4 separate regions of the Homo sapiens genome follow, and regions 2, 3 and 4 are each linked to region 1. The links come from fine-mapping of genetic effects on gene expression. A gene starts in region 1. Each other region holds a variant in brackets. All regions are shown on one strand. Distances are from middle to middle. Region 1 holds the start of UBP1 (upstream binding protein 1). Region 2 has its middle 12 kb from the start of FBXL2. Region 3 overlaps UBP1 (upstream binding protein 1). Region 4 overlaps UBP1 (upstream binding protein 1).

Region 1 (8,071 bases):
AGCACACACAGAACACATGAGAACCAGAGCCAAAAGAAAAAGAGAAGCAAAGGTAATGTTAGTAATTAGCCCCAATATATTCCCAATATTACCAGCCTACATTATTTTACACAAACATATTTTTCCTACTGTTTTAAGAGAAAGGGGTGGGGGGAAACAACAAAAGAGAAGGGGGTCTCATTCTTGCCCAGGCTGGAATGCAGTGGCTATTAACAGGTGCAATCATAGCACACACTACACCCCTGAACCTCTGGGCTCAAGCAATCTCCCACGTAGCTAGGTCTACAAGCATACCAAACATCACACCTGCCTAATTTTAAGTCAGACCACTGACAGAAGCCATTTCTTCCTTTCAAACTATCCTCCCAAAAGATGAGGAAACCATTCCCTAAGAGAAGTCTTTTAAGAAATACCTCTTGTTTTAAGCCATCCAAAAAGCAAATACAGTAAGCATGTTTCATTTTGAAAGAAAAATAGAAAGCTGCCTACAAAATCAATTTGTATCAAGAAGTCATTTTTCCAGTAATTTCTTCAAGTTTACTTCTTGAACTTTGAAAGATAAGCTTTCCTTCCCACTGGATGCCAGAGGAAGTGACTGAATGCTCAAGCTGGCCATTCATAGGCACTCCAACCCTCTCAGGGCTCCAGGGCCAGGCATGGAAAGTACAACTGCAGTCCAGGGAGGCCTGCAGCAGCTAACGCCTTCTTCAGATTTTCTCCTTATCGAGTCAATTTTGGAATTTCCTTAGTTTGAGAATTTCAAACAAAGGGCCTTGAATTTGCAAGAGGCAAGCACTCTCATCTCTTAGTTTTTGAGGACTCAATTAAATACGAAAAAAAAACCTTCTTAAAAATGGTAATTACCTTCAAACTTCTTTGAAAATTTAGATTAAATGACACAACCAAAAAAGAATTCAAGGGAAAATTATCCCTGTAAAGAGTACTGTAGGTTACACAGAATTACAAAGATCTCACACATTACTTTAAAAATACATGGTCAGGGAAAGGTTTAAAATCATCAAGATTGTACTTCCTTTTCATGGAAATAAACCATACACAGAAGTTATTACATTAATAAGTTGGCTGAATCACTAAATCAAAGTACAGGTCAAATAAAACCCTAGAAAAAAGTAAAAGCTCAAAATAGCTATCAATAAGTAAACTTTTCAGCAGCAAACTTTCATTTTACCATAAAAGAGAAGCAACTGAGGAGAGACACATATTGAACTTGCTTCACGTGCCTCCTTTGCCTTGACTATAAGCCTCGTGTTTCCAGTAGAGAGCTAAGGAGCAGAATGGCACTAGAGGAGTGCGTTTTCACTAGAGAAGCACTGCCTCTAATACTCCCCTCTGGGGTGACTCCATGACTTTCAGTAGCTCAATTTCCTCAACAACTGAAACAGCTGTTTTAGAAAATAAGCCAACTCATCTACAGGCCTTAAGTTATACAACTGCAGAGAGAAGAGGTGCCAAGTTCAGGAAGCCCAACAGAGACCAAATCAGAGCCAGACGCTGGGGAACTCCAGGTTTAATATGCCTTCCACTACTCACTTCCACACTCCAAGAAATGTCTCCAACCTTTCTGAGAGTTCTTTATGGCTCAGAATTTCTCCTTAAGATTTAAAGACCCAATTACTTCAAGGAGCAGCCACCAAGATTCCAGGCCAGCTTTAACCCAGAAGTCCTCCTCTAGAGCTGCAGTAAGATGTATGAATGCTACTGGGAAACTGTAGAGCACTTCCAAAACATCAGACATTTTCTAAAGAACAGAAAGCTACACTTAATTCACATTATTGAAAAGCTGCCAAACCACTGATTTTTAGACTTTATTAGTCAAGTCAACGCTATGGTAAACTATATTTCAATAAAGCCACTAAAAAAATACAGAGTTTCCAAATTCCTAACAGTTAAAAAGGATAAAGGGCGGAGACTAAGCTCAGATCTGTTTCAATCTCTCCATATTAAAATGAATGACTGCTGGTACAGACAGCAGAGACTAAACAATTATTTGTGGTGCAATCACTGCATCTTAAAACCCTCAAGAGGAAACAGCCTGAGAGGGTAGTCTCCAAAATGAGAAACTTCACTTTGAGACAATCAAAAGAACAAAACGAAGTCACAGTGCTACTCCCACCGCTGCTCTTTCAATTATAATTTACTAACATCAAGTGATTAAAATCTGCAGCCAGAAAAGATCATAATGTAGGACAACAAAGTAGGAACTGATCCCAAAACGCTAGACAGTATTCTCCCAATATAAGTGCTGCCTTTTCGTACAGTGTATTCTAGCTCCAATGGGACTTGTAAATCACTTATAAGGAAAAGAAGCCCCTTCCCCCACCAACCCAAGCCATCCTAATAGCTGGGCGTGTTTTACAGCAAATATGAAGCACTCAGGAGCGGTCCGAGGCCGACGCTTGCGGGGCCATCCTCCCCCACCCGCCCGTCACCAGGGCGAGCAGAGGCCTTTGGGGTTCCATGGCCCCCGACCGCCACGCGGCAGGACTCCGACCCCGCAGCCCAGGAGGCCCGCGCACCTCTGGGAGCAGCCGCATCTGGCAGAGACTCAGGGCTGCGCAGGCCTTCCCCAAGGAGACAGAGGCTTCTCCCCGCCCAGGGAGCCCAGTACCTCATGCTGTAAGCGCCGGCGCCCAGTTCCTGCCCGATGCCCGAGAGGCTGGCGTCGAAGTCGTGCACCAGCCCGGACTCGATCACCTCGTCCATCTTGAGCACCCAGGCCATCTTCCGGCCTCGCCGTCGCCCCGCACACCGCGGCCTCCGCGTCCAGGGCGAAGGAGCCGGAGCTCCGCTGGCGCGTCCTGGGGGAGGGCGCGGGTGAAGCCTCCGGAGGGGCGGCGAGTGGTCACCAGCGGCGGCCGGGACGAGAGCTGCGGGGGCCCCACTGGCAGGGCACGACGAGCCCAGCGAGCAATTGCAGCGGGAGCGGCCGGGCCGCCGGCAGCGCCACCCTCCCGCGGACACCGGCCCTGCGCCTCATGCCGGCGCCGCCGCCCAGCCCCCGCGCCGCTAGCGCTGCAGCCGCCGCCGACCGCCCCGCCCGGGGCCCCCCGGTCGCATCCTCCTCCGGGACCGCTGGGAGGCTGGACCTCGGGCCGCTCCGAGGACCACACGGGGGCAAGCCCTCCGCCCGCCCGTCACCCGCCCCCAAGCCTTGACTCCTTGCCCCCGGCCCGCCCAGGCTCTAGCGCCACACCGCCCCGGCCAACCCCGCCGACGCCGCTCTGCCGGCCGGACGCTGGCTTCAACGCGACTCCGACTTAGGTTCACGCGCCGCTTCCGCCTCCCCCGGCCCCGCCCCGACCCCGCCCCGGCGTTCGCCCCACGCCTCGGCCCTCCCCGTACAGCCCCGCGCTTAGGGCCACTCCCCGCGCCTCGCGGCCCAGGAACTGTCCAGAGAGTGCAATGCGGCCCCGCCCACGCGGCTGTTCCCAGCCGGGGTGGCCTCGCTGCGTCCCCGCACAGCAGCCCAGGAAGAGGCGGTGCCAAAAGGGCTGCCAGTTTCCGCCCCTTCTAGCGAGCGAGATGATTGACAGGCCAACTGAGCAATACCTGCAAGGGCTTGGACGAAGCTCCCGTGAGTCTCTGTGTCCCCCGACTAAACAACCAATCAAAATGTTCTTCACCTTGGGCGGGCTCGAAGACGGAATTTGTTGCCAAAAGAAAGAGTTCATTGGACTGCATGGTAGAAAGCGACCCAAAACGCCACTTCCGGAGGTGATTTGCTCCTCTGTGGTATTTCCCGGTCGTCTCTGCTTTATGCCCTCTCTACCGAGGGAGTGAGCGGTTTGCACCCCATCTGGTGACAGAAAAGCCAGTTGTGCAGAAAACCTTGATTGGCGTGAGAATAAGCCAATCAACGCTCCTGAGAAAGAGCTCTGGAAAGACTTCCCCTATTGGTTGCATTGCCGAGAGCAGCTTGGCTATCCTGAGTTGAACTAGCTGTTGGTCATCCTAAGGGCAGGCGGTCTCCTGAAGTTGGACCGAACCATTAGGACGTGCCACAGTAACAGCTACGCTGCTCAGAAGGCCCGAAGGGTCTTCCTCAGCGACCTAGCGTGGGCACGCGCCACTGCGGCCAAAAGACAGAAATCTTTTTACCGGAAGAGATGAAATAGAAAGCAGGAGCCAGAGGCTGACTTACAGAGCCAGTGTGCGGATCAGAGTTCCTTAGGAGCGGCTGCTGGCGCTTGACGGGCGGAATCCTTGCTGAAGAGAACGTCAAGGCCCGGGCTTCGCCCTGCATCGAACTTACTGCCTAAGAATAAGACCCAAATGCTGAGCGCCCCGCCCCAACTTGCCAGTTTAAGTGCAAAAATACATAGATTAAAATGTCAGCCTAATAAAGCAGTGGCACTGAGCCAGAAAAAAATAGTCTCAACGCCTGTGTGATTTAGATACTAACTTACAGGCTCACGCCTGTAATCCCAGCACTTCGGGAGGCCGAGGCGGGTGAATTAGTTGAGGTCAGGAGACCATCCCGGCCAACATGGTGAAACCCCGTCTCTACCAAAAATAACAAAAATTAGCTGGATGTGGTGGCGCGCCCATGTAATCCCAGCTACTCAGGAGGCTGAGGCGGGAGTAAGGCTTGAACCCGGGAGAAGACAGAGCAACACTCGGTCTCCAAAAAAAAAAACCACAAATTAACTTGGAGAATGTTTTTCTCTTTACACAACATTTTTGCAAACATTTCATTTGATAAAGCCATACTTTAGAGATGAGGTAATTCAGGTGAAAATGTGTAAAGATTACACAGTGCAAGGTCACACAGTAAGCAGGTAAACCGGGGCTATTTGACTAATCCAGATTTCTCTGATTCCAGGCGAAAACATTAGATTGGCCATCAGTTCAGGAAGCTCCATTCCACTATTACAAATAAATCTGCACAAACAATTGGATAGTCAAGGGAAACATTGGTCTCATTGGGGGTCTCAGATATGTCTTCATTCCATGATCTCACCTCACTTGCATAACCTAGTCTATAACCAGATTAGCCAGGCCTACTATTAGTTGTTGGAAAATTTGGAGAAATGGAATTGGGGGAAGATAATTCTCTGGTTTTTGGAGAGAGTGTAAAAGTACAAGCTACCATCAATTTTTCAATCAGGCTGTGCCCTAAGGAAGTACTGGGTCAAATATTTAGAAATTGAGCCTCAGGCTGGGCAGTGTCTCAGGCCTATGATCCCAGCGCTTTGGGAGACCAAGACTTAAAGCTTGGGAGGATGGCTTAAGGCCAGCAATTGGGAGACTAGCCTGGGCAACATGGCAAGATCCCGCTTCTACAAGAAAAAAAAAATTAGTTGAGCATGATGGCACGCTCCTGTAGTCCTAGCTACTTGAGAGAGACTGAGGCAGGAGGATCACTTGAGCCTGGGAGTTTGAGGCTACAGTAAGCTATGATTGTGCCACTGCACCCTAGCCCGGATGACAAGATGAGACCCTGTCCTTAGAAAAACAAACAACAACAACGAAAAACAAAAAACAAAAAAAAAATTAGAGTTCTGGAGGATAGAAATAAAAGTGTTGGCTGGTCATGGTTGCTCACAACTGTAATCCCAACATTTTGGGAGACCAAGAGGGGAGGATCTCTTGAGGCTAGGAATTTGAGACCAGCATGGGCAACAGAGCGAGACCCCTGCCTCTACAAAAGAAAAATTTTTTTTGAGACAGAGTCTTGCTTTGTTGCCCAGGCTGGAGTGCAGTGGTGCGATCTCAGCTCACTGCAAGCTGCGCCTCCGGGGTTCGCACCATTCTTCTGCCTCAGCCTCCCGAGTAGCTGGGACTACAGACGGCCGCCACCACACCAGGCTAATTTTTTGTATTTTTAATAGAGACAGGGTTTCACTGTGTTAGCCAGGATGGTCTCGATCTCCTGACCTCGTGATCTGCCTGCCTCAGCCTCCCAAAGTGCTGGAATTACAGGCATGAGCCACCGCTCCTGGCCAAAAAAATTTTTTTAATTAGCCAGACATGGTGACCTGCACCTGTGGTCCCAGCTACTCCAGAGGCTGAGGTGGGAGGATCACTTGAGACCAGGAGGTCAAGGCTTGCAGTGAGCCATGATAATGCCACTCTAGCCTGGGTGACAGATGAGACCCTGTCTGGAAAAAAAATAGAAGTATCAAGCAGCGCTAAATAGTAATGTCATAAAGAGACCAAAATATAAAAGAAGGATAGTGTTAAAAGAAAACTTTAGACAAATTAAATATAAGAGTTTAATTTTGCAAAAAAAAGATTTGTCAATCAGGTAGCCACCCCGAACCAGAATATGTTCAGAGAGACTCCAACACTGTTGCATGGTGGAAGAAGATTTATGGACAGAAAAAGGACAGTGATGTACGGAAAACAGAAGTGAGATATAAAAACAGCTTGATTGGTTGAGTGTATTATTTGAACAGTTGGCCTCCTGTAATTAGCCAAAACTCAGCGATTGTTATAATAGGTTATAGACCATTTATACATCCAGTTAGGTTACAATTTACTGTGTACAGAGAAACCTTTAGGCTGAACTTATAAGGAGGCAACTTTAGGCTAAACTCAATTTAACAATTTCTCCCCTTTTGTTCAACCTCTCAACTTGACCAAAATAGAGAGGTTGACCAAAATCCTAGACATTGACATTACTTTCTGACCATTGTAAATGTACTTATCTGGTCGCAAATCCCATTGGGAAATAGTACAACAGTGGGTTTTGTAAGGTGCGAATAAGGACTTTAGGTTATTTTCTGGTAAGCGTTAGAGTAGAGGATACTTTTTTTTTATTATGTTGGAATTTTTATTTATTTAAATTTTATGGACATTTTATGGATGATTGTATGTAAACATTTAAAACTTTTGAAAGTCCTTAGTGCACATAGGAGACTACTATTAAGATTACCAAGAGGATAATACCAAGACTTTGGAGTATGCCCCTTAGCCAGGGTCAACATGAACTAAACTAACTAAAATCAAATAGATCAAAGAAAGAGCTAGATAAAAGATCAAGCTGTTTTAACCAAGCAGCTTGTTTATTAATCCCCTGTAACTGAATCTCTATAATACCTGATATGTTCATCTCTGTGCAACAAGAAGTGTGAGCAACTGCAGATACTTCTCTGTATCTGCATACAGAGATACATACTTCTCTGTATGCAGATACAGAGAAGTATCTGCATACAGAGATACATACTTCTCTGTATCTCAGTAAGTAATATACAGCAATTCCGTTATCTAGCACAACTTTAGCAAGAGAACTTAAAGTCTGTTGTGCCATGGCCTTTGCAGTAGAGTCAGCTATAGAGTCTACTATGAGGGATAAATTTCCTTTTTCTTTCTTTTTTTTTTTTTTACTTGTTGAGACGGAGTCTTGCTCTGTCACCCAGGCTGGAGTGCAGTGGAGCGATCTCGGCTCACTGCAAGCTCCACCTACCGGGTTCATGCCTTTCTCCTGCCTCAACCTCCCGAGTAGCTGGGACTACAGGTGCCCGCCAGCACACCCAGCTAATTTTTTTCTGTTTTTAGTAGAGACGGGGTTTCACCATGTTAGCCAGGATGGTCTCGATCTTCTGACCTTGTGATCCGCCCACCTCAGCCTCCCAAAGTGCTGGGATTACAGGCGTGAGCCATCATGCCCGGCCTTTTTTTTTTTTGAGATGGAGTTTTGCTCTTGTTGCCCAAGCTGGAGTGCAATGGTGTAATCTTGGCTCACTGCAACCTCTGCCTTCCAGGTTCAAGTGATTCTCCTGCCTCAGCCTCCTGAGTTTTTGGGATTACAGGCACCCGCCACCATGCCCAGCTAATTTTTTGTATATTTTTTTTCAGTAGAGATGGGGTTTCACCATGTTGGCCAGGCTGGTCTTGAACTCCTGACCTCAGGAGATCCACCCACCTCGGCCTCCCAAAGTGCTGGGATTACAGGTGTGAGCCACCGCGCCCGGCCATGAGGGATAAATTTCTTTTTTTTTCCTTTTTTTTTTTTTGAGAGAGTCTCACTCTGTTGCCAGGCGGGAGTGCAGTGGCACAATCTCGGCTCACTGCAACCTCCACCTCCTGGGTTCAAGTGATTCTCCTG
Region 2 (8,071 bases), 180 kb before region 1:
TTGATTCCTGTGTTACTTCACTTACAATAATGGTCTCCAACTCCATCCAGGTTGCTGTGAATGCCATTATTTTGTTCCTTTATATGGCATATATATATATGGCATTTGGGTTGGTTCCATATTTTTACAATTGTGAATTGTGCTGCTATAAACATGCGTGTGCAAATGCATTTTTCATATCATGACTTATTTTCCTCTGGGTAGACACCTAGTAGTGGGATTGCTGGATCAAATGGTAGTTCTAATTTTAGTTCTTTAAGGAATATCCACACTGTTTTCCATAGTAGTGTTACTAGTTTACATTCTCACCAGCAGTATAAAAGGGTTCCCTTTTCACCACCTCCATGACAACATCTATTATTTTTTTACTTTATAATTATGGCCATTCTTGCAGGAGTAAGGTGGTATCACATTGTGGTTTTAATTTCTATTTCCCTGATAGTTATTGATGCTGAGCATTTTTTCATATGTTTGTTTGCCATTTGTATATCTTCTTTTGAGAATTCTCTCTTCATATCCTTAGCCTACATTTTGACGGGATTATTTGCTTTTACTTGCTGATTTGTTTGAGTTCCTTTTAAATTCTAGACATTAGTCCTTTGTTGGATGCATAGTTTATAAATATTTTCTCTCACTCTGTGTGCTGTCTGTTTGCTGATTGTTTGTTGTTGTTGTTGTTGTACAGAAGCTTTTTAGTTTAATTAGGTCCTATCTATTTATCTTTGTTTTTGTTGCATTTCCTTTTGGGGTCTTGGTCGTGAGCTGTTTGCCTAAGCCAATGTCTAGAAGAGTTTTTCTGATGTTATCTTCTAGAATTTTCATGGTTTCAGGTCTTAGATTTAAGTATTGGACCCATCTTGAGTTGATTTTTGTATAAGGTAAGAGATGAAGATCCAGTTTCATTCTTCTACATGTGGCTTGCCAATTATTCTGGCACCATATTTTGAATAGGGTGTCTTTTCCCTAATTTATGTTTTTGTTTGCTTCATCAAAGATCAGTTGGTTGTAACTATCTGGCTTTATTTCTGGGTTCTATATTCTGTTCCATTGGTCTACATGCCTATTTTTATACCAGTACCATGCTGTTATGGTAAATATAGCCTTATAGTACAGTTTGAAGTTGGATAATGTGACGCCTCCAGATTTGTTCTTTTTGCTTAGCATTGCTTTGGCTATGCAGGCTCTTTTTTGGTTCCCTACGAATTTTAGGATTTTTTTTCTAGTACAGTGAAGAATGATGGTGGTATTTTGATGGGAATTGCATTGAATCTGTAGACTGCTTTTGACAATATGATCATTTTTACAATATTGATTCTACCCATCTAAGAGTGTGGGATGTGTTTCTATTTGTTTATCTGTTATTTCTTTCAACAGCGTTTTATAGTTTTCCTTGTAGAGATCTTTCACCTCCTTGGTTAGGTGTATTTCTAAGTTTTTTTTTTTTCTTTTTTGTCAGCTGTTGTAAAAGGGTTTGGGCTCTTGGCCGGGTGCAGTGGCTCAAGCCTGTAATCCCAGCACTTTTCCAGCACGAGGCAGGAGGGATCACCTGAGGTCGGGAGTTCGAGACCAGCCCTACCAACATGGAGAAACCCCATCTCTACTAAAAATACAAAATTTGCCGGGCGTGGTGGTGCATGCCTGTAATCCCAGCTACTCGGGAGGCTGAGGCTGGAGAATCGCTTGAACCCAGGAGGCAGAGGTTGCGGTGAGCCGAGATCATGCCACTGCACTCCAGCCTGGGCAACAAGAGCGAAACTCTGTCTCAAAAAAACAAAACAAAACAAAACAAAAACAACAAAATGAAAAACTGGGGTTTGAGTTCTTGATTTGATTCTCAGCTTGGTTGCTGTTGGTGTATAGCAGTGCTACTAATTTGTATACACTAATATTGTATTCTGAAACTTTATAGTATTCATTTATCAGATCTAGGAGCTTTTTGGATGAGTCTTTAGGGTTTTCTAGGTATAGGATCATATAATCAGTGAACAGCAACAGTTTAACTTCCTCTTTACTGATTTGGATGCCCTTTATTTCTTTCTCTTGTCTGATTGCTCTGGCTAGGACTTCCACTACTATGTTGAGTAGAAGTGGTGAAAGTGGGCATCCTTGTCTTGTTCCAGTTCTCAGGGGGAATGCTTTTAACTTTTTCCCCGTTCAGTATACTGTTGGCTGTGGGTTTGTCATACATGGATTTTATTACCTTGAGGTATGTCCCTTCTGTGTTGATTTTGCTGAGGGTTTTAATCATAAAAGGATGCTGGATTTTGTCAAATGCTTTTTCTGCATCTACTGAGATGATCATATGATTTTTGTTTTTAATTCTGTTTATGTGATGTATCATAAATATTGACTTGCATATGTTGAACAATCCTTGCATCTCTGGGATGAAACCCACTTGATAAGCCAGGCGTGTTGGCTCATGCCTGTAATCCCAGCACTTTGAAAGGCCAAGGCAGGTGGATTGCTTGAGGTCAGGAGTTTGAGACCAGCCTGGCCAACATGGTGAAACCCCGTCTCTACTAAAATACAAAAAATTAGCCGGGCGTGGTGGCGGTGCCTGTAGTCCCAGCTACTAGGGAGGCTGAAGCAGGAGACTTGCTTGAATCCATGGGGTGGAGGTTGCAGTGAGCTGAGATTGCACCACTGCACTCCAGCCTGGGTGACAGAGCAAGACTCCATCTCAAAAAAATAAATAAATAAAATAAAAAAGGAAAAAAGAAACCCATTTTCTCATGGGGTATTACCTTTTTGATATGTTGTTGAATTTGGTTAGCGAGTATTTTGTTGAGGATTTTTGCATCTATATTCATCAGAGATTTTGGTCTGTAATTTTCTTTTTCTTTTTTTTTGTTATGTCCTGTCCTGGTTTTGGTATTAGGGTGATACTGGCTTCATAGAATGATTTAGGGAGGATTCCCTCTTTCTCTGTTTTTCTGAATAGTTTCAGTAGAATTGGTACCAATTCTTCTTTGAATGTCTGATAGAATTCAGCTGTGGATCCATCTGGTCATGGATTTTTTTTGTTGACGATTTTTAAATTACTGTATCAATCTCACTACTTGTTATTGGTCTGTTCAAGAGTTTCTATTTCTTCCTGGTTTAATCTATGAGGATTGTAGATTTCCAGGAATTTATCCATCTCCTCTAGGTTTTCTAGTCTGTGCATGTAAAGGTGTTCAAAGTAGCCTTTAATGATTTTTTGCATTTCTGTGGTATTGGTTGCAAAATCTCCCATTTCATTTCTAACTGAGCTCATTTGGATATTCTCTCTTCTGGGTTAATTTAGCTAATGGCCCATCAATTTTGTTTATCTTCTCAAAGAACAAGTTTTTTGTTTCATTCGTCTTTTTTTTTTGTTTGTTTCAATTTCATTTAGTTCTGCTCTGATCTTTGTTATTTCTTTGCTTCTGCTGGATTTGGGTTTGATTTGTTCTTTTTTCTCTATTTCCTTGAGATATGACCTTAGATTGTCTATTTGTCCTCTTTCAGACTTTTGATATAGGCATTTAATGCTATGAATTTTCCTTTTAGCACTGCTCTTACTGTATTTCAGAGGTTTTGATAGGCTGTGTCACTATTATCTTTCCATTCAAAGAATGTTTTAATTTCCCTCTTGATTCCATTGTTGACCCAAAGATCATTCAGGAGCAGATTATTTAATTTGTATATTTGTATAGTTTTGAGGGTTCCTTAGGAGTTACTTTCCAATTTTATCCCACTGTGGTCTGAGAGGGTACTTGATATCATTTCAACTTTCTTAAATTTGTTGAGACTTGTTTTGTGGCCTACCATATGGTCTCTCTTGGAGAGTGTTCCATGTGCTGATGAAAAGAATGTATATTCTGCAGTTGTTAGGTAGAATGTTCTGTAAATATCTGTTAAGTCCATTTGTTCTAAGGTATAGTTGAAGTCCATTGTTTCTTTGTTGACTTTCTGTCTTGATGACCAGGGTAGTGCTGTCAGTAGAGTATTACAAGCCCCCCACTATTATTGTGTTGCTGTCTATCTCATTTCTTAGATCTAGTAGTAATCATTTAATAAATCTGGGAGCTCCAAAGTTAGGTGCATATATATTTAAGATTGTGATATATTCCTGTTGGACTAATCCTTTTATCATTATAAATGTCCCTCTACGTCTTTTAAAACTGTTGTTGCTTTAAAGTCTGCTTTGTCTAATATAAGGATGGCTACTCCTGCTTTCTTTTGGTTTCCATCTACATGGAATATCTTTTTCTACCCCTTTACCTTAAGTTTATGTGAGTGAGTCCTTATGTGTTAAGTGAGTCTCTTGAAGACAGCAG[A/T]TACTTGGTTGATGGATTTTTATCCATTCTGTCATTCTGTATCTTTTAAGTGGAACATTTAGGCCATTTACATTCAACGTTAGTATTGAGATGTGAAGTACTGTTTCATCTATTGTGCTAGATACCTTGTTTCTTTTTTCATTGTGTTATACCTTGCTTTTTTTTCATTGTATTATTGTTTTATATACTCTGTGAGATTTATGCTTTAAGGCAGTTATATTTTGGTGTATTTTGAGATTTTTGCTTCAAGATCTAGAATTCCTTTTAGCATTTCTTGTAGTGCTGGCTTGGTATTAGAGCATTCTCTCAGCATTTGTCTGAAAAAGACTTTATATCTCCTTCATTTATGAAGCTTAGTTTTGTTGGATACAAAATTCTCAGCTGATAATTATTTTGTTTGAGGAAGCTAAAGATAGGACTCCACTCCTTTTTGGCTTGTTGGGTTTCTGCTGAGAAATCTGCTGTTAATCTGATAGGTTTTCCTTTATAGGTTACCTGATGCTTTTGCCTCACAGCTCTTAAGATTCTTTCCTCTATCTTGAATTTAGATAACCTGATGATTATGTGCGCAGGTGATGATCTTTTTGTCATGAATTTCCCAGGTGTACTTTGCACTTCTTGTATTTGGATGTCTAGATCTCTAGCAAGGCCAGGGAAGTTTTCCTTGATTATTTCCTCAAATTTGCTTTCCAAATTTGTAGATTTCTCTTATTCCTCAGGAACATCAATTATTCTTAGGCTTGGTCATTGTATTTGTCCATTTTCATGCTGCTGATAAAGACATAACCAAGACTGGGAAGAAAAAGAGGTTTAATGGACTTACAGTTCCACGTGGCTGGAGAGGCCTCAGAATCGTGGCTGGAGGTGAAAGGCACTTCTCACATGGTGGCAGCAAGAAAAAATGAGGAAGATGCAAAAGCAGAAACCCCTGATAAAACCATCAGATCTTGTGAGACTTATTTACTGCCATGAGAGAACAGTATAGGGGAACCACCCCCATGTTTCAAATTATCGCCCATCACGTTTCTCCCACAACACATGGGAATCATGGGAGTACAATTCAAGATGAGATTTGGGTGGGGACACAGAGCCAAACCATATCATTCCACCCCAAACCCCTCCAAATCTCATGTCCTCACATTTCAAAACCAATCATGCCTTCCCAACAGTCCCCCAAAGTCTTAACTCATTTCAGCATTAACCCAAAAGTCCACAGTACAAAGTCTCATCTGAGACAAGGCAAGTCCCTTCTGCATATGAGCCTGTAAAATCAAAAGCAAGCTAGTTACTTCCTAGATACAATGTGGGTACACATATTAGGTAAATACAGCTGCTCCAAATGGGAGAAATTGGCCAAAACAAAGGGTTTACAGGGCCCATGCAAGTCTGAAATCCAGAGGGGCAGTCTAATTCTAAAGCTCCAAAATGATCTCCTTTGACTCCATTTCTCACATCCAGGTCATGCTGATGCAAGAGGTAGTTTCCCATAGTCTTGGGCAGCTCCACCCCTGTGGCTTTGCAGGGTATAGCCCCCTTCCTGGCTGCTTTCATGGGCTGGCATTGAGTGTCTGCAGCTTTTCCAGGCACACGGTGTAAGCTGTCAGTGGATCTACCATTCTGGGGTCTGGAAGATGGTGACCCTCTTCTCACAGCTCCACTAGGTGGGTGCCCGAGTAGGGACTCTGTGTCAGGACTCTGACCCCACATTTCCCTTCTGCACTGCCCTAGCAGAGGTTCTCCATGAGGGCCCCACCCTTGCAGCAAACTTTTGCCTGGGCATCCAGGTGTTTCCATAAATTTTCTGAAATCTAGGTGGAGGTTCCTAAACCTCAATTCTTGACTTCTGTGCACCTGCAGCCTCAACACCACATGGAAGCTGCCAAGGTTTGGGGCTTGCAACCTCTGAAACCATGGGCCAAGCTGTACCTTGGCCCCTTTTAGCAACAGTTGGAGCGGCTGGGACACAGGGCACCAAGTCCCTAGGCTGCACACAGCGTGGGGACTCGGGGCCCAGCCCACTAAACCATTTTTTCCTCCTAGCCTTCTGGGTCTGTGATGGGAGGGGCTGCTGTGAAGACCTATGGCATGCCCTGGAGACATTTTCCCCATTGTCTTGGGGATTAACATTTGGCTCCTTGTTACTTATGCAAATTTCTGCAGCCAGCTTGAATTTCTCCTCAAAAAATGGTTTTTTCTTTTCTACTGCATTGTCAGGTTGCAAATTTTCTGAACTGTTATGCTCTGTTTCCCTTTTAAAATGCAATGCTTTTAACAGCACCCGAGTCACCTCTTGAATGCTTTGCTGCTTAGAAGTTTCTTCCACCGGATACCTTAAATCATCTCTTTCAAATTCAAAGTTACACAAATCTCTAGGTCAGGGGCAAAATGCCATCAGCCTCTTTGCTAAAACATAACAAGAATCACCTTTGCTCCAGTTCCCAAGAAGTTCCTCATCTCCATCTGAGACCACCTCAGCCTGGATCCTATTGTTCATATCACTATCAGCATTTTTGTCAAAGCCGTTCAACACGTCTCTAGGAAGTTCCAAAATTTCCCACATTTTCCTCTTTTCTTCTGAGTCCTTCAACTGTTCCAGCCTCTGCCTGATACCCAGTCACATTTTTGGGTATCTTTTCACAACACCCAATTCCTGGTACCAACGTACTGTATTAGTCCATTTTCATGCGGCTAATAACAGCATACCCAAGACTGGGAAGAAAAAGAGTTTTAATTGGACTTACAGTTCTGCATGTCTCGGGAGGCCTTGGAATCATGGCTGGAGGTGAAAGGCACCTCTTATATGGCAGCTGCAAGAGAAAATGAGGAAGATGCAAAAGCAGAAACCCCTGATAAAGCCATCAGAGCTCGTGAGTCTTATTCACTACCACGAGAGAACAGTGTGGGAGAAACCACCTCCATGATTCAAATTATCTCCCACCGGGTCCCTCCCACAACATGTGGGAATTCAAGATGAGCTTTGGGTGGGGACACAGAGCCAAACTGTATCAGTCATTTAACATAATCCTAACTTTCTTGGAGTCTTTGTTCAATATTTTAAAATTCTTTTTTCTTTGTCTTTGTCTGATTGTGTTAATTCAAAAACCTTGGCTTCAAGCTCTGAAGTTCTTTCTTCTACATATTCTAGTCTATTATTGAAACTTTTCAGTGTATTTTGTATGTCTCTAAGTGTGTCTTTCATTTCAAGAAGTTGTGATTGTTTTTTCTTTATGATATTTATTTCTCTGGAAAATTTGTCATCCATATCCTGTATTTTCTTTTAATTTCTTTACATTATTTTTTAACTTTCTCTGGTATCTCCCTGAGTAGCTGAATAATCAACCTTCTGAAATCTTTATCTGGCAATTCAGAGATTTCTTCTTGGTTTGAATCCATTGCTGGGGAGCTACTGTGATCTTTTGGGCATGTTATAGAACCTTGTTTTGTTATATTACCAGAATTACTTCCCTGGTTCCTTCTCATTTGGGTAGACTATTTCAGTGGAAAGATCTGGAACTCAAGGGCTGCTGTTCAGATTCTTTTGTCCCACAGGGTGATCCCTTGATGTGGTGCTCTCCCCCTTTCCCTAGGGATTGGGCTTCCTGAGAGTTGGACTGCAGTGATTGTTATTGCTCTTTTGGGTTTAGCCACCTAGTGAGGCTACCAGGCTCTGGGCTGGTGCTGGAGAATGTCTGCAAAGAATCCTGTGATGTCATCCATTTTCAGGTCTCCCCACTGTGGATACCAGCACCTGCTCTATTGGAGGTGGCAGA
Region 3 (8,071 bases), 41 kb before region 1:
TTCAGTAAATCTGACCAAAAAAAAAAAAAAGCCAGAACTCAATGCATTCAAGCTAGTTTTTCCACTTGTTAGATATTTCCGGCATGAAGGGCCACATGAAAAACAGACCCATAGTGTGGCTGCAATGACTGAGAAAGAATGCCAGTTTCCTCTTCTCCCAAGGACTTCACCCTAGAGCTGCCACCTCTCATTGCTGTCAAGGCTCCCACATGAGCAACTTGGCATTCCTAACACAGCAAGAGTTCTCCAAAGCCTGCTCAATCGAGTCCTTTCCGTTTCTGTCTGACAGTCTCAGAAGTGACAGAATTGAGATGCCCTCAATACCTACCATAGGGTGCCCCACTGCCATTCTCGCTTGCACTGCTTGCAGCTTGCTGCTGCCCTTGCAGCACTGTGCTGCTTGGCTGCTCCCGGCAGACATAGATGGTTAAACGGGGTCTAACCGACCTGCAATCAGAAGATGCCACTGATGAGCCTGGGAGAGAAAGCTGCCTTACACATGTACAAATATGACAACTACAGGAATCTAAGTTCTATTTCCTTATGAGAACTTTATAATGTTATTTCGTTATACAAAGTAATTTACTAATAAAAATATAAAAACCACACACCTCACACCAACTATCACAGGTGGTCTAATATGATGATCCAGACTCTAAACCATTGAGATGGTCTGTCAGATGCTGGTAAATTTAAGTTTCAAGATTAAGTCAGCAAATTAAAAATCAGTAAGATTCAATTTTAATGGAATTCTCACACCACAAGTATAGAAAGAGCAATGATAGTAAATGGTTCTTACAAGCCAGCACAATTTACAGTTTCTGTCATTTTAATTCACAATTAGTTTACATTTTTAATAACTGTTTAGTAATAGTCATGACCTTGAAAACCATAGATTCTGTATAGCTCACCTAAATTAGAAGTTTTGTTTTCTTGGCAACAAACCCAGTCGTCTTCAAGAAATCAGTACTGCCCATGTGCATTTCTACCAGTCTTACAGTCTACCTCTGCCCTCATCAGTGCCTGCATCATATCTGGGCCTGCCCTGAAGGTGTACACAAAACAGTCTTCTTGTGAGCACAATGCTGCCAATGCTCGATGGCGCACACAGGCACACACGCCAACCTAGCGTGGAAACACATTCTGCCCAAATTCCCCACGCGAAGAAAGGTACATTCTTATTTCAAGCAAAACAGTTCACAGTATTTTACCTTGACTTCAGTGAATTATAGAGCCGAATTCCATCGGCTGCACCACAAATTTGAACTAAATCCTCCTTTGTCAGTTTTAATAAGTCGGCACCTAGAGAAGAGCAAAAATATTTTTCTCAAATAAATGGAAAAAGAACAGAACTGCTTTACAGGCATCTGTCTTCATGCAGTCCAATGTCCTTCAAAATAATCAGATATCCTGAATACACACATACACATGAACAATATAAGAAGACAAACAGACACCTGTCCTTCAGAGCCAAGGAAAATGCTGGCTTTTCCATGTCCTGTATCAAGAAGGAGCTTAGAAGTCCTGAGGCTGATGAATCAAATCAATGAGAGCAGGGCCTAAAGAACTCTTCCCGATATAGGATTTCACTCATCTACCTTATTTAGTGACTGGGTTGTGGCTATGTGAAGAAACATGATTCTAACCCACCCCACAGAAACAAACCCTGAGATCACCCGGGCCAGTCAATCTTTAATTTTAAAAAAAAGGAAATGGAAGTCCAGAGTTTGTGGGACTTGCCTAAAGTCTGTAAGAGTTGGTAGCCGAACTAGGACTGGGCCTCTTTATTCTGAAACGTGCAATGTAAAGTCAAACATGTTAAATTTTATAACATAAACAACTCTGTCACAGCAGCTAATTTTAACAGAAGAATGGCAGAGAATCACACATTATACCCTAAGATTTCCCCCAAGCACATCCTACTTACGATGTCATTTACAAGTGTAAATGTCTCTCTATACAGGTTTCCTATAGCACCACCTAGAGAAGCAGTGTTTGACACTTTTAAAAATTCTATCTGAACACTCCCTTCGCTTACCATACAAGAAAAAAAAACTTACATATAAGTATAAAAAAGCCATACCTGAGTACATACACACCATGAACTACTATTCAGTATTTCAAGCATAAATGATATGGCATCTAGGATTTGCTTTGAAATACAACAGAAGGCAGGAGAGGAAATAGTGGAGAGCAAGACTGACCAAATGCTGGTAGTTTTTGAAGGTAGGAGATGGCTGCATGGGAGTTCATCATATTCTCTCTACTTTTTAATGTCTGAATGTATCCATAATCTTTTGTTTTATTCTCTAACACCCAGGATACAGTTTATTGGGGGAATTAAGATGAACTTTGGGATGAAGGCTTGACTTCCATATGATAAATAGCCACTTACATATGTAGAAGATAATGGAGTCATCTTTCTATTTTTTAAAGGCTCAAATGCAATAGCCTACTAAATTTCTAGTCTGTAAAACAAAGATCAGAGAAGCACATCTCCCATGAGACATGAGCATTAATAGAGTCATTTTATAGAGTCAGGTAAGCAAAGAGGCTCTCTTTCATCTCTCTACTAGGGCTTACTACATGCACCTCACAGTTGTGACCAGAGAGTACTGTGTATGTGTGTGCACACCCTTAACCCATACAGAGAACTGGACAGATAACTGCAATGTACAACCCTTCCTGAAATGTGAATGCCCCCAAGGATCAGAGCAAGAAGACTCACTGTCCTCCTCACCATGCTACTGTCAGTGCTGTGACTCAGGAGATGTGCCCAAAGGGTACCATGGCTAGCTCCTCGCCCACTTTCTTGGAAGAAGCCCCCAGGATAAGGAAAAGGCAGAAGGCCACGCCATGTGATCACTGCTCACAGCGAAAGGGATTAAAACTCACCAGATAGAAACATGGATTTGCCTGATGTAAAAGGAGTAATGTGGGGCCTCCTTCAGTTCCAAATGTCGGCGCTTTTTCTATGTGCTATGCTTTTCAT[C/T]TGCCTTCCATACAACAGTGCAAGACAAACCCCAGCTCCCCGACCCTGAAATTTTACAATTTCTAGTTTTTCACACATAAAAGGCTTTACTTAATCATATAAAAATGTAGTCCCCAGCTAGCAAATGACCTCCATAGGGAACTTTAAAGAGACAAAGAAGTACACGGGGAATAACTACTCATTGCACAAACATTACAATACGTGGCATAGTAAGAAACCATGTTCTTAGCAAAATCAAGCTTTTCTTCAGGCTGAGTGTGTGCACACACAAGTTCTGTCCTCTTAAAGGGATTCACAAAGTTGTGTTTTAATGGCCCTACTGCACTGCAGGTGAAGGAATGCTAACTACCACTTTACTGTGATCCAGCACTTCTCAGGATGTTTGGCCAGGCCATGTTACTAGGTGGTCATGTTGGAAAAGAGTCCCAGAGCCAAATATATTTGGGAAATGCTACCTCTGCCCCACCTGTCATTATCTATTACTGTCCCTCTAAACAGGTTTCCTATAGCACTACCTGGAGAAGCAGTGCTTGATACCTTTTAAAATTCCTTCTTAACATTCCCTTAGCTTACTGTGCAAGAAAAAAAACTTACCCATAAGTATATAAAAACTGTAATTGAGTACACTCAGACTATGAAACACTACTTAGCAGTAAAAAGGATTAAACTACTGATAAACACAACAACTTAGGTGGCCGTTATGCTAGTGAAAAAAAGCCAATCTCAAAAGGCTATATACTATATGATTGCATTTATATAACATTCTCAAAATGACAAAATTATAGACAGAATGTAAAGTGGTTGCCAAGGACTAGGGATGGTGGGGGAAGGGTGTGGGTGTGACTCCGAAGGGGTAGCAGGAGGGAGATCCTTGTAGTGATGGCACAATCCTGTCATCTTAATTGTGGTGGTGGTTACAAATATCTATACCATAACATACGTTGTGCCAATGTCAGTTTCCTGGTTTTGCTATTGTACTATAATTATGTGAGAAACGGAGTGAAGAGTACACCGAAATATCACTGTACTAGCTCTGTAACTTACTGTAAAACAAAAATTATTTCAAAATAAAGTTAAAATGAAAAAAATCATGTAAAACTATATACACCTACACACAAATGAGGTCACGTAAGTCTGGTAAAACTGCTGACTGAACCAATGTCAACTGCCTGGCTTCAATAGCATATAATAAAAATACAAGATATTCCTATTGGGGGATAGATATAAAGAACTTCTCTGTACATTTTTCTTTGCAACTTCCTATCCATAGTTATTTCAAAATTTTAAAAATATAAAGTTAATAAAAGCACAGAAACAAAAACAAAACATTCTCATGCACAGATACACACACACATACACATACCTGAAAAATTAGAGAACAGTCTTGTGTAGGAAGAGAATCTGTTTTTGAGCAGCCATTGCTGTGTTTCCTGGATCGTAGCTGAAGGCTGAATTTGCTATTAACAATGAAAATGAACATAAATAAAAGGAACCATTCAGACTTAGAACATTTAAACAAAACACAGAAAGCCTCGGAGTCTGAAGTAAAAAACACCCAAAAAGAGCATGAGTCTGACTCCAGCAACCCAAATGATGCAGGCCCTTGTCAGAAACTTAAACATGATACACAATGGGATGCTATTCAGCCATAAAAAAAGAGAAAAATCATGCCGCTGCTAATGAAATCACCTTTTGCAGCAACATGGACAACATGAACATTTCATTGTCTTAAGTGAAATAAGCCAGGCACAGAAAGACTTATATTCTCACTTATATGTGGGAACTAAAAAAATTTGAACACATGAAGGGAGAGAGTGGAAAAATAGGTAACAGAGACCGGGAAGAATGGGTGAGGGATAAGAGAGAGGATGAGAAGAACTGGATTAAAGGGTGCAAACAAACATACAATAAAACAGAAGGAGTAAATTCAGTATTTCGTAGCAGAGTAGGATGACTATACCTAAAAAAATGTACTCTACTCAGGTGATGGACACCCAAAATATCCTGACTCGATTACCACACATTACCATACATGTAACAAAACTTCTCACCTACTCCATACATTTGCACAAAAACCAAAACTTTAAAATGTAGAACCCTGAAAGCATCAGATAGTTTTAGGAGAAAGATACTTACTTCACCAGAGGTCTGTGAAGCTCCATCTCCCTGATGATTTGGGGAAGAAGAATTGCTGGGGAGAAAGGAGAAAGAAGGAAATGATGATTTTTATAATACATATATGTTTTAATCAAGGCATTAAAAGCTGTTGCATTGTAACTATGCAAATTTCAAGTAAGGCAACAGTGGGAGACAGCTATGAAAGTCTGCAACAAAATGCAAGCGCAACAGCTTAGGGTGTGGACATGATGACGAAATTAAGACACAGAAGACTGTGTCTTAATTTGTGCCTTCTTCATCTGTACTAGTAAGAAATTCAAGTTTTGTGAAACAAAAGGGCTTCCCCAATTATCTTCAGGGATGCCAAGGAAAATGAAGGATACACATTAATTTTTAAAAGTTAGGGGAAAAAATATGAAACATCAAATTAGATAAATAGTTGAAAATAATTGCAAAAAAAATGAGCTACAAGAAATAGTACAATGACCCTAAGCAAAAATATAAAATGATACTCCTTTAAGTAATACATATATCCAAGATTGATGAGGGTGAATTTCAAGAGAACAAAAGAAATTAACTTGTACCACTATCCTTGTGCTTCTAAGTAAAATGAAATGAAAAACAGCTCCACAGGGAATAGGGCTACCTTCTGGCTCTTGAGCACCGACTCCTTTCTTAGCCCCCGTGCCTCAATTGCTTAGGTTTATTATCTTGATTATTTATATCCTTTCTACCCATAAGAACTTAAGCTCCTTCAGACGGGGGTCTGTCTGTTTGGGCACTAATGTATCAGAACACTTAGAACAGTGCTGGGAACACAATAAGTTCTCCAGTCTACTAGTGAGTACATAAACTTACAGCTCACCTTTAAAGCCATAAGCATTTTCTAAGATTATTCAGACCGGACTGACTGACTAGGAAACTATTCTAAGCCCTCAGACATGGTAACCTACTGGTCCTCTGGTCACTCCTCTAATTTTCTGAGTCCAAGGCTATTTTTCTACTCTTAAAGCATAATAGCCTACATGACAACAAGCTGCCTTCTCAGTTTATCCATCTCCTCAGGGGGAGAGCACATTTTTGCTTGCTTTCTCATCAGACCTTGTCAGCATGACCGGAGAACCTTTTTCTTTGTGATCTTAGCTTTCATAATTTTCCTCCCCAACAAGAAACTTCCTAAAAATAGGGAACTTCTGATGCTAACTACTCTGCATTAGTTCTGCAGCAAAGCCCTAGAATGGAAAGCCGCCATGGGGTACTGCTGTACCTTCAAGATGCCCCAAATGCAGTCTCTTGCTCCCACCCTGAGCTTACTCTAGACTCTTGCCAGTCAAGGCTGGATAACAGAATAAAGAGTCCACCATTTCCATTTCTAAAACCACAGCAAGTCTGTAGAAACCGAAAGGTCTTCCTTTAAAGATTTAATTAAAAAAATAGCATATCTATTGGGAGAGAAAAGAAATACTGCAGAAAATAACCCATTTGATATAAGCATTACAGACAAGTGAATGAACTTAGTAATAAACTCACTTTGTCCCTCTCTCTCTACCTATAGACACTGTTAATGTTGTCTTTAATCTTACAAAGAATATATCTTGGCTATGTCTTGAAAATGGCGCCTTGTCTACAATTACCATAGTTGTGACTATGTTAAGGCACAAGGGGCTCGGAGTAAAAAAGGCTGGTAGGTGAAGAAAAGACAATGATTGTCCTCTGCCACCAAGATACAGGATACTTCCCCTTACTGTTTCCTTTAGGTACAATACAAACAAAAGGCTGCTGTACATGGAGAGATGGGGAAATGAAGGCACATGAGCATTAGTTAGCTGCAGGCACACGATCACACAAACTAGATACCTGTCTGGGACACTGCAAGTGCTCTGCTGTGGGGAGGTGAAAGTGGGCGCTGGGGAAGGGCTGTTATTCACATAGGCTGTGGGGGCATCGGGCCACGGAGAACACTAAGGACAGAAACAGAAATAAATTAGTGATATGCTTTTAAAATATGTGGAAGAAATATTTTTGTAATTCACTCACTAACCAAATGCAAGATTATAAAATGCGAGACAGCTGACATTTATCAAGCAACCTCACAGACACATGTCAAATTTACTTCTGTGTGGCAAAGAAAAGTTTTACCTGCTGTGTGCGTCTAGACACTGATTAATCTTAGAGAAGACCTAAAGTGATGACAGCAGCAAAAATTTATAAAGGCATTTAAAATATATGCTTAAGTATAATTGCTTTGAAGAGCTTTCTCCTCCCTCTTTACCAGTATCCTCTTTATCAGTTTCCCAACAGGCACCTATCAAGATTTAAGAATGGCGAAGACAAGAAAGGATTTATAAGCAACATCTGACATCACATGGTGACCTGAAACATGGCTCTGACCTAGCTAGTGCTCCTTTTGCCCTCTTCCCTAATGAGCAGCCTCACCAGTACCCATTTGCTTCTCTGATACCTCTAAAGGTTAATAATCCTCAAGACAGACCAGACAGGCCCAGCATCAAAATACATCAACTGTGTACAGTACTACATCTATCTCTATCTATCTATCTATCTATCTATCTGTCTGTCTGTCTGGTCTGTCTATCTAATCTATCTGTCTGTCTGTCTGTCTGTCTGTCTGTCTGTCTGTCTGTCTATCTATCTATCTATCTTTCCTTCTTTCTTTCTTTTATATTTTCTGGAAGGGTTATGGTGAACTTTAATATTTTTCAGCTCCAGGCAAAATTCTGACCAGAAACAGAACAAAGACACGGAGATACACTATTACAATTAGGAGGTTGAAAAAGTCAGTCAAAAGCATGCTAAGCATGCCAGAGTAATCTCAAATACAAGTCTTCAGACTTGAGATACAGACATCACATGGTGTGATTTCACTTTACAGGTATTCTTTCTAAAAACCAATGGATCTGAGGACTCAGTTTCAAGGGTCCCCTTTCATAATCATCCTTCTCT
Region 4 (8,071 bases), 51 kb before region 1:
TGTATGGATTGCAGTTACTCTGGTGATAGTTTTCACCTTTATTCTGCTGTGAAACAATCAAATCAAAGCCTTGTGTCAGTTAACACATGACAAGTGGTCTCAATGCAGCTAGGACCATGCCAGAAACCTGGATCTCTTAAGAGATTGGTACCTACCTAGGTACGAAAGTTCTACCCTTGGCATACTCAGCATTCCTCAAAAAGACCATCAGTGTTAGCACAAACTGAGCAGAAAAAATAAGCTGTTGATTTTCTACCTGATACTTAAGCCAGTGGCCTACTTTAATTCACAATTCCATTTTGATTAGCAGGACTTTTCCACTTTGAAGATAAATAGCAACTTTATCAAAGTGACTGTACTGCAAATTAATTCATAATGCCTGATAGTTTTATATATAGAGACTTATGTGGAAGGCATGTTAATAGGTTTCCATGAGACACCAAAGAAAAGAGGACTCTATACTGGGTGGAGCAGGGTCTTCACCTTTTTGTTTCTGTCAACTTGTCATATACACCTCCAGGGACCAAAAACAAAAGCAGCTCGGAGTCTGTGTTGCCTGATTGGAAAGTAGAAGCTCTGGTGTATGCTACAGCACATAACACATTTTTACTAAAGGAAAAAAGCTAATTATGTCCATGCCTCTCGTAAAACTGGGGGGAACCTTAAAGAGAAAGAACTAAGGCTTAAGTTATCTGTAGTATAATCAATTAGAAGTAATGAATGGATGCATGTAAAATGGATGTGATTTTTTTTCAAGCTTATTTTGAAATCTTAAAAATCAGGTTACACCATAGCTACTCAAAAGTTTTACACACTTAAAACTCAGATCAGTAAGTGTTGGTACCTTTTAGACTCATAAAATTGAATAAACCATTGCAATGCTTTAAAAAAAATTAAGTCAGAGGGTTTTATTGCTATGATTTTATGGCAGACACATCCAAGCAAAACCATTTTCCAAATGCAGACCTTCCTGATGTTATCTGAAATCTGATAAAATGACCCTACTCTCTGCTGTGGTTCATTCTTGCTCCATGCTGTCCATATTTATGATCTTTATTAAGAACCTGTCAATCAGTCATCACCACCTTCATTGTAAACTTAGGTGTTCATGGTGGCTGGCCCTTCCAAACAACCACTCCCCCAAACTGAAGGGCCAGAGCTCATGAGAAACTTAAAAGTGAAACGGCAAAAGCAAGATGTGTTCCCATGACTACCAATACCTTTATTAGGCAGTTTTAGAAGTGTTTTTAAGGATATATTATGTCAGCTGCATTCTAGGAAGAGAAGCAGATTATATATATATATAATCTCCCCATAAACGGACTTAGCACAATTATCATCAGAGTAAGCATTAAAGTCATTTTATTGCCTTATGATATATTCCAGTATTCCTTGGTCTAAAAATTGTGTGGATACCATAGCAGTTAGTTAAATATACATTTATACCCACTGTTTGTTGTGGAAGAGATGATGGGGGAGGAGGACTGATGCAGGAAGCAACTTCAATAAATGAGCATATAACAGACTTGCTTCAGTGATTATGAATTAGTTTAGTTTCTATTAAAAAAAATTAACTTAAGGCTGGCCACGGTGGTTCATGCCTATAATCCCAGCACTTGGGGAGGCCAAGGCGGGTGGATCACCTGAGGTCAGGAGTTTGAGACCAGCCTGGCCAACACAGTAAAACCCCATCTCTACTGAAAATACAAAAATTAGCCGGGCGTGGTGCTGGGCACCTGTAATCTCAGCTACTCGGGAGGCTGAAGCAGGAGAAATGCTGGAACCCAGGAGGCGGAGGTGGCAGTGAGCCGAGATTGTGCCATTGCACTCCATCCAGCCCAGGAGACAACAGTGAGACTCCATCATCATCTCAAAACAAAACAAACAAACAAACAAAACAAACCACCAGAGCCTTCTATACATGATTGATTTCTTTTGAGCCAGGATACAACCTATCATCAGTCACAGCTATTGGACTTGATGCTCAATGATCCATGGCCTCATTTACAAAACAGGAGAACCTCTTGTAAGAAAATCAGGTTTGCAGGCTGGGCACGGTGGCTCACGCCTGTAATCCCAGCACTTTGGGAGGCAGAGGCGGGCGGATCGTGAGATCAGGAGATCAAGACCATCCTGGCTAACACAGTGAAACCCCGTCTCTACTAAAAATACAAAAAAAATTAGCCGGGCATAGTGGCGGGTGCCTGTAGTCCCAGCTACTCAGGAGACTGAGGCAGAAGAATGGCGTGAACCCGGGAGGCAGAGCTTGCAGTGAGCCGAGATTGCGCCACTGCACTCCAGCCTGGGTGACAGAGCCAGACTCCGTCTCAAAAAAAAAAAAAAAAAAGAAAATCAGGTTTGCTTCCTTTTAAAGTCTGGAATAGTTTAGTTAGTTAGTTAGTTAGTTAGTTAGTTAATGGAATAACAACATATCCTCAGTTGCATCAGCTTTCAGAAAATAAACTGAAAAGGAAAAAACTATGAGCCTAACCTCTTACTACATTTAGACTGGCTCAGAATACACACAGGGAAACTCCTTGATTCTATGACACGAAGTGACAGTAGCAGGAACTGGGATTTTAAATGAGACACACATTTGCAAAACAATCAGAAAACATTTATTATACTGAAATGTGTACATCCTACTATTAAAAAAACAAAGTAACAAATTTGCTGGTGCCAAAATTTATTTAGCCTGTTTCACTGGGACAAACTCACGTTCAATGCCACTCAGTATAATTTCAAGTCTGATAAGCATCTAAGTATTTTTACCCCGCTTCTAAAACCTGATGAGGAATTCAAAATAAGCACACAGCATTAAATGACATTTATTGTTCCATAAATCTTGAGACCCAAAAAGGAATGCTAAATAGACAAGCAAAACTTTTAAAACAAACGAGATAAACTCACTTCTTTCCCCAGTGACTGGTACAGAAAACATGTGGTCACACGAAAGCAAAGGGAAAAAGTCAGAAAGGAAAACTCTCTGCCTATAGGATCTATAGGAGTTACAGATATTTTCAAATCGATGATGAAAATAGATCGTGCTTCTTTGTAGCAAATAATTAACCCCCTTTATGAATAAAACATAAAATGTCAAAGCTTTTACTCACTGAAGTAGTTTGTCTTCTGGGAGAGATTTCAAACTCAAAATTACTCATTTCCTATTTTTTGCCTGAACACAATGAGGATCAAATAGTACATTCAAATCAGGACACCTGGGTATATGGACAAAGATATCCTACAATTAAAATGGAATAGAAGTTAAAAAAAAAATTCAGTCCCCTACACCACAGGCCTCAAACATGCTTGCTGATGGATTCTGGGAAGGTTTTGGATGAAGGACGGAGATATGGGAGGAAAGTGAGAAAACAGTGGATTCCCTTTGAAAAGTATGCTAGCAGACAAGCATTTGGTTTTATGAAAGAGGCACTCTTATAGAGAAAGAAGCTAGTATGTGGTGTATAAAAAGCCCCTAAATCATCACCAGAATGTCTATCCATGATTGTACTAAAGCTCAATATTTGAGAGGCTTAAGGGATTTGTATGGTACATTTTAGTGTTTGATTGATAACATCTAGTGTTTCCAGAAAAAAATTCATCTTGTTCATAATGAAGATCCCTTAACACCTAGTCAGAAGCTATCAACAATAATACTTTCTCCCCCTACTTGGGTCACCTATTTCCAATGTCTGGGGTAGGGCTTTAAAAATGTTTAATAGGATGGTGGGGGTGGGGGGTTAGGGTGGGGGTGGTCAGAGATGGAGGGAGAGAGGGAAGAAAATGAGAGAAAAACCACGAGTTTAAAAGGCAAGGAATCTCCAAAAATGAAAACCAGAAACTAAAATGCTAAAAATGGAAGCAGAAGCAAAAAAGTTTTTCAATAAATCTGTGACAAAGCCAAAACACAAAAGTCTTTGTACCTATTAGGATTTACACTGATCCTCTCACCAAGGTACTCCTGATAATGCAGTTTGCTTCAAGCCCATCTTCCTGGCTTGGATCTTCTCCAATCTGGCATGATCATATCAAACGTACACCCTCAGACATGATTTCTTCCAAGAAGGTGCCGAGCCTCTTACCTGACCACCAACGGCCACATCAGCACAACACAACTCTCCGCATACAGATTCACTGCTGGCCCCACAACAGCACTGTCCCCCATCTCCTCTCCAGGTCAGCATAAGGTTCAGGCAATAAAAGCCAAACTGGCACAGAAAGGTAAATGCCCACAGTAAGTTTCTACATTCATTTCCAAACCGCATACAGTGTAAAAAGACAGCAAAGGCTGCTTCTAGGAACTGTATTTACTGGCCTCTGCCAGAGCAGCAGGCAGCTATGCCTGCACCGTGGCCTCCAGAGCTGGATGCATGCTGTGCCGATGTGCTCACTCTCATGAGGATGCTTGGCTATGGCAGTGACAGTGAGGAGATTCACCTCTCATACAGCTCATTAGAAAGGTCATCTTGTGTTTTCAATATGAAACATTTCATATGGTAAAATCCAATCCCAAGACTTCTTGGATTCAGTCTTCACACACTTTTAAGCGTGACTATTTGGTACTGAATACAGTTCAGTCTATATAAGACATCACTTCAAAATTATGTGGATGCCATCACTACTTTCAGCTGCAGAAAAAGGAAAGACAGTATTTCTTCAGTCAGGCTTAGGAAATTAAGCCTATTAAATGGAAAACTCCCTGCCAACTACAACCTCCCTTCCCAATTCAGAGGTTACCTTTAAATGATTCTAGAGAAACAAGCAGATTAACTTGCTCTAGCTCCTCTTCCCCCAAAAAACTTCATGTACACATTCCCTTTTTAGACATTCTGCGAAGCCTGGCCCACTATCAACGCCCGCATTCCAACACTGTCTGCCAGTTCTGGGGGTAGGGGGACATCTATCAAGACACACAATAATAGTGCTGTCCATAAGGGGAGCAAGAGCTAGAAGGAGAACAGGTGAAATATACTGTGTCAGGGCAGAGGACCTGAGGGAGTAAATGCAAATGTGTACATCTACCTTTTCCAGAAAAATTTCTGAGCTACTCACAGAGATTTCAAACATTTTAAAACTGTATCATTCCTTTTGCCTAGTGTTTCTCAGTAAATAGTGAGAAGCAATATAGGCATTCATAAAAAAATGATTTTTCTCATGACGACAAAGTTTAAAAAAAAAAACAAAACAGTAAATTGAGATTAGAGGGGAGATCCTATGATTTCTAATACCAAAAAATGTCTGCTGGTTTCACAAAACAAAACTATGCAATTATAGTATATGTCTTCTTTTTCAGACAATGTCAGTTATGCAAGGTAAAAACTGTACTGCTGTGAAAACAAAAGACTGAGCAGAAGGGTACTAGGCTAAAGATGTTTCTGAAAGAGTGAACCAGTTCAGAGTTAAAACTCAGCCTTGCAGGTAACCTGATGGCATACGCAACATGTGAGGCGCAAAATAAAATCAGTATTTCAGTAGTCTGGGGACACCTGACACACATGACATCTCCCTCTTCTAGGGGCAGCTTTTGTGCTAAGACCGGATTTGGATCTTAGCTCACCTGACTTTTAAAACAGTCTATGAATGTATGATCTCTTCTCAAATAATTTTACATTTAGGAATCCCTCCTCTTTAATGTTGGAGCCACCTAAGCCTGGTCCTGGCTCTTTTCATATTCTCTCCCTAAATGACCTTAACAACTTCTACAGCTTTGAGTCACTG[C/T]TGATATGCTGAAGGTTTCCAAATTTACATCTCAAGCCCAGGCCTCTTCTCTGAGCCCCAGACTGGTAATAGTCAACTGCCTACTTGACATTTCTACATATCCAAAATCAAACTCTTGGTTGATTTACCCCAACCATACTTACCTCTTCAATGAGATCACCATCTGCCCAGTTACTTTCCACAGAAAATAAGGTGTCAGAACTATTCCTCCCTCAAAAGTGGAGCCCACTGGGACCCTGTCTATAAACGTGTAAGATACCATCACCTTTCACCTGGATATCTCCTGCCTCGTTTTGCCACCTTCTCATCTGTCTCCACAGAGTTGTGAAAGTGAAAGAAAAATCTAGTCACATTACTACTCCTTTGTTTAAACAACTTCAGTGACAACCCAATGCATTTCAAGTAAATCCGAACTACCATCATCATCCGGTCCCCGCATGCCAGACCCGGCCTCCTGCTTTGATTTGCCCTGATCCGCTCACCCTCACACACTGCATGGCACCTACATGGCCCACTGCCAGGCTTTCCAAGAAGCCAGGTGTTTTCTTTGCACACAGCCCCACGTTGCCTGGGGATGCTAATCCAATGGCCAGCTCCCGCTTCTTCTCATTCTTCAAGTCTCAGGATTAATAACACCTCCTCAGAGAAGCCTTGCCTTACAGTTTCATATTCCCCTCAACCCAGATCTCCCTTATCCATAAGTACCCCCACACTTTCCTGTTCCTTCATGGAACTTAACATATTGGGAATTTTGTGTATCTCTTGGCCAATTTTGGTTTGCTTTCCCCAATAGGAGTTTCATGGATTCTGTTTTATTCAATAGATCCACTGAGCGACAGAAGCACGGTGTCTGACACAAAGTGCTCAGTAAGACGTTGGCTGAATGAATTGAGATTTTTTTTTCCAGTCATCTAGAAAGACTGACTCCTCTTCCTTATATGCTAATTTCTGTTACAACCACTAGAAATATTCTCATTTATCAAACTTTCTTCTTAAAATGAGTAAAGCAATCATTTTAAAGAATAAACACGAGAGGCACTAATTAGAGGCACACACCATCTCTCATGATTCCAGCATTTTAAGACACACACACATGCAAAGTACCTTTTACTGTGGAGAATAAAAAACAACTCTCATCTTGAAAATTCTGAACCATCTGGAAGGATAAAGTAAATGCGTAAGTACAATTAAGATCCAACTGTCGTTTCTTAAAATGATTTTAAAACAGTAAATATTCTTCTCAAACAAACACAGGACTCAATGGCCAAAACGATAATTCATGAAGGCAGTGTGAGGCAGCAAAGATGCACACGTGCTGCACTGCCTTGTGTTCACTATGCCTGTCCATAATGGTCCCTGAGAGACCTGGTCAGTCACCCATGTGACCCACAGGGGCACATTCCCTGCCGGCTCCAGTGGATGATGACTCGAACAAAAATTGCATAAAGTGCTCTTCTATTATTACTTGCCACCAATCACTAGGGGAAAAATTATATATCTTACATGTTTTTTTAAATTAGTCATCAAATAATAGACAAAAGGAAAACACATCCAGTGACTCACCTCATAAAAAGGGCCAAAGCCTGCCACTATCCCTAGAGTGCCCCAGTGATTGGCTGCATCCTAAAGGGCTGGGGGGAGGCTAAGCCAGTTTTCCTTGGCTTGTATTCCATATTATCACTAGGATGCCTGAAACTCTTGGTTATAAGTTCTTCCAAAGTGATTCCCAACTCTCTGAAAATGATTCTCATAAGTATTTTCAAAAGAGGTCACAGAATTTTTCTACAGTTCTACAATTACATGTATAAAAGTAAATACCAGTCTGAAAAGGAAAAACAAATGATTTGATTTACCTGATCACTAACAAGAATGTGAATACCGGTGGGACCCTGTCTGTAAACCTGATTAATTTGGTGGAGAGGGATATTAAACACCAGCGCAAGTTTTCGAGCAACTTCTGAGGCAATCATTTCTTCCAAGTAGATTGCATGATAAACTGAAATTAAAAAAAAAAAAAGAAAAGCATTTTAACAGTAATCTTTGATCTGTTTTCTGCCTGATCTGTAGGATCTGTACGAAGGTCACACCTTTCAAAGTACCAAAAAAGTAAAAAAACATTTTAAATGGGAATAAACTATTTCTTTCCCCCATCTTACTACCTTGAAATCTTGAACTACCAATCTAAAACGTAAGAATACATTATTTATATCCACAAATATAATTTAATAAACATTAACAGAAATCCCTGGACAAAAAGATTTGAGGTTTGAATTTTTCTTCATATTTTTATTCAATGAATATAGTTTCATGTATTCAAAATTTAAAAACAGGAATTGGCTGCAAATGGACATGG

Evidence for each region. PIP is the estimated chance that this variant, and not a neighbour inherited with it, causes the effect.
Region 2: its variant is the best candidate, but not a certain one, in a credible set for the expression of UBP1 in whole blood (TOPMed, PIP 0.55).
Region 3: its variant is the best candidate, but not a certain one, in a credible set for the expression of UBP1 in lymphoblastoid cells (GTEx, PIP 0.89).
Region 4: its variant is the best candidate, but not a certain one, in a credible set for the expression of UBP1 in whole blood (TOPMed, PIP 0.84).

Annotation. Positions count from the first base shown.
Region 1 is chr3:33,437,107-33,445,177 of GRCh38, forward strand. It overlaps UBP1 (upstream binding protein 1), which reads right to left and starts at 3,299. Exons shown (of 16, transcript NM_014517.5): 1 at 2,630-3,299. The coding sequence starts at 2,742. RefSeq lists silencers at 1,211-1,505, 2,304-2,538, 2,458-2,507, 2,738-3,057, 3,108-3,217 and 1 more and enhancers at 2,757-3,256, 3,588-3,777, 3,988-4,277.
Region 2 is chr3:33,260,971-33,269,041 of GRCh38, forward strand. No RefSeq gene overlaps it. Among named protein-coding and RNA genes, the nearest start is that of FBXL2, 12 kb to the right of the region's middle. The variant A/T (reference allele first, on the strand shown) is at 4,302.
Region 3 is chr3:33,395,834-33,403,904 of GRCh38, forward strand. It overlaps UBP1 (upstream binding protein 1), which reads right to left. Exons shown (of 16, transcript NM_014517.5): 9 at 6,968-7,071; 10 at 5,129-5,183; 11 at 4,356-4,449; 12 at 1,212-1,302; 13 at 329-447. It also overlaps a transcript of FBXL2 not described here. Among named protein-coding and RNA genes, the nearest start is that of UBP1, 41 kb to the right of the region's middle. The variant C/T (reference allele first, on the strand shown) is at 2,993.
Region 4 is chr3:33,385,741-33,393,811 of GRCh38, forward strand. UBP1 (upstream binding protein 1) reads right to left here. Exons shown (of 16, transcript NM_014517.5): 14 at 7,572-7,714; 15 at 6,823-6,874; 16 at 2,596-4,628. The coding sequence ends at 4,591. FBXL2 (F-box and leucine rich repeat protein 2) reads left to right here. Exons shown (of 15, transcript NM_012157.5): 15 at 1-2,352. Among named protein-coding and RNA genes, the nearest start is that of UBP1, 51 kb to the right of the region's middle. The variant C/T (reference allele first, on the strand shown) is at 5,719.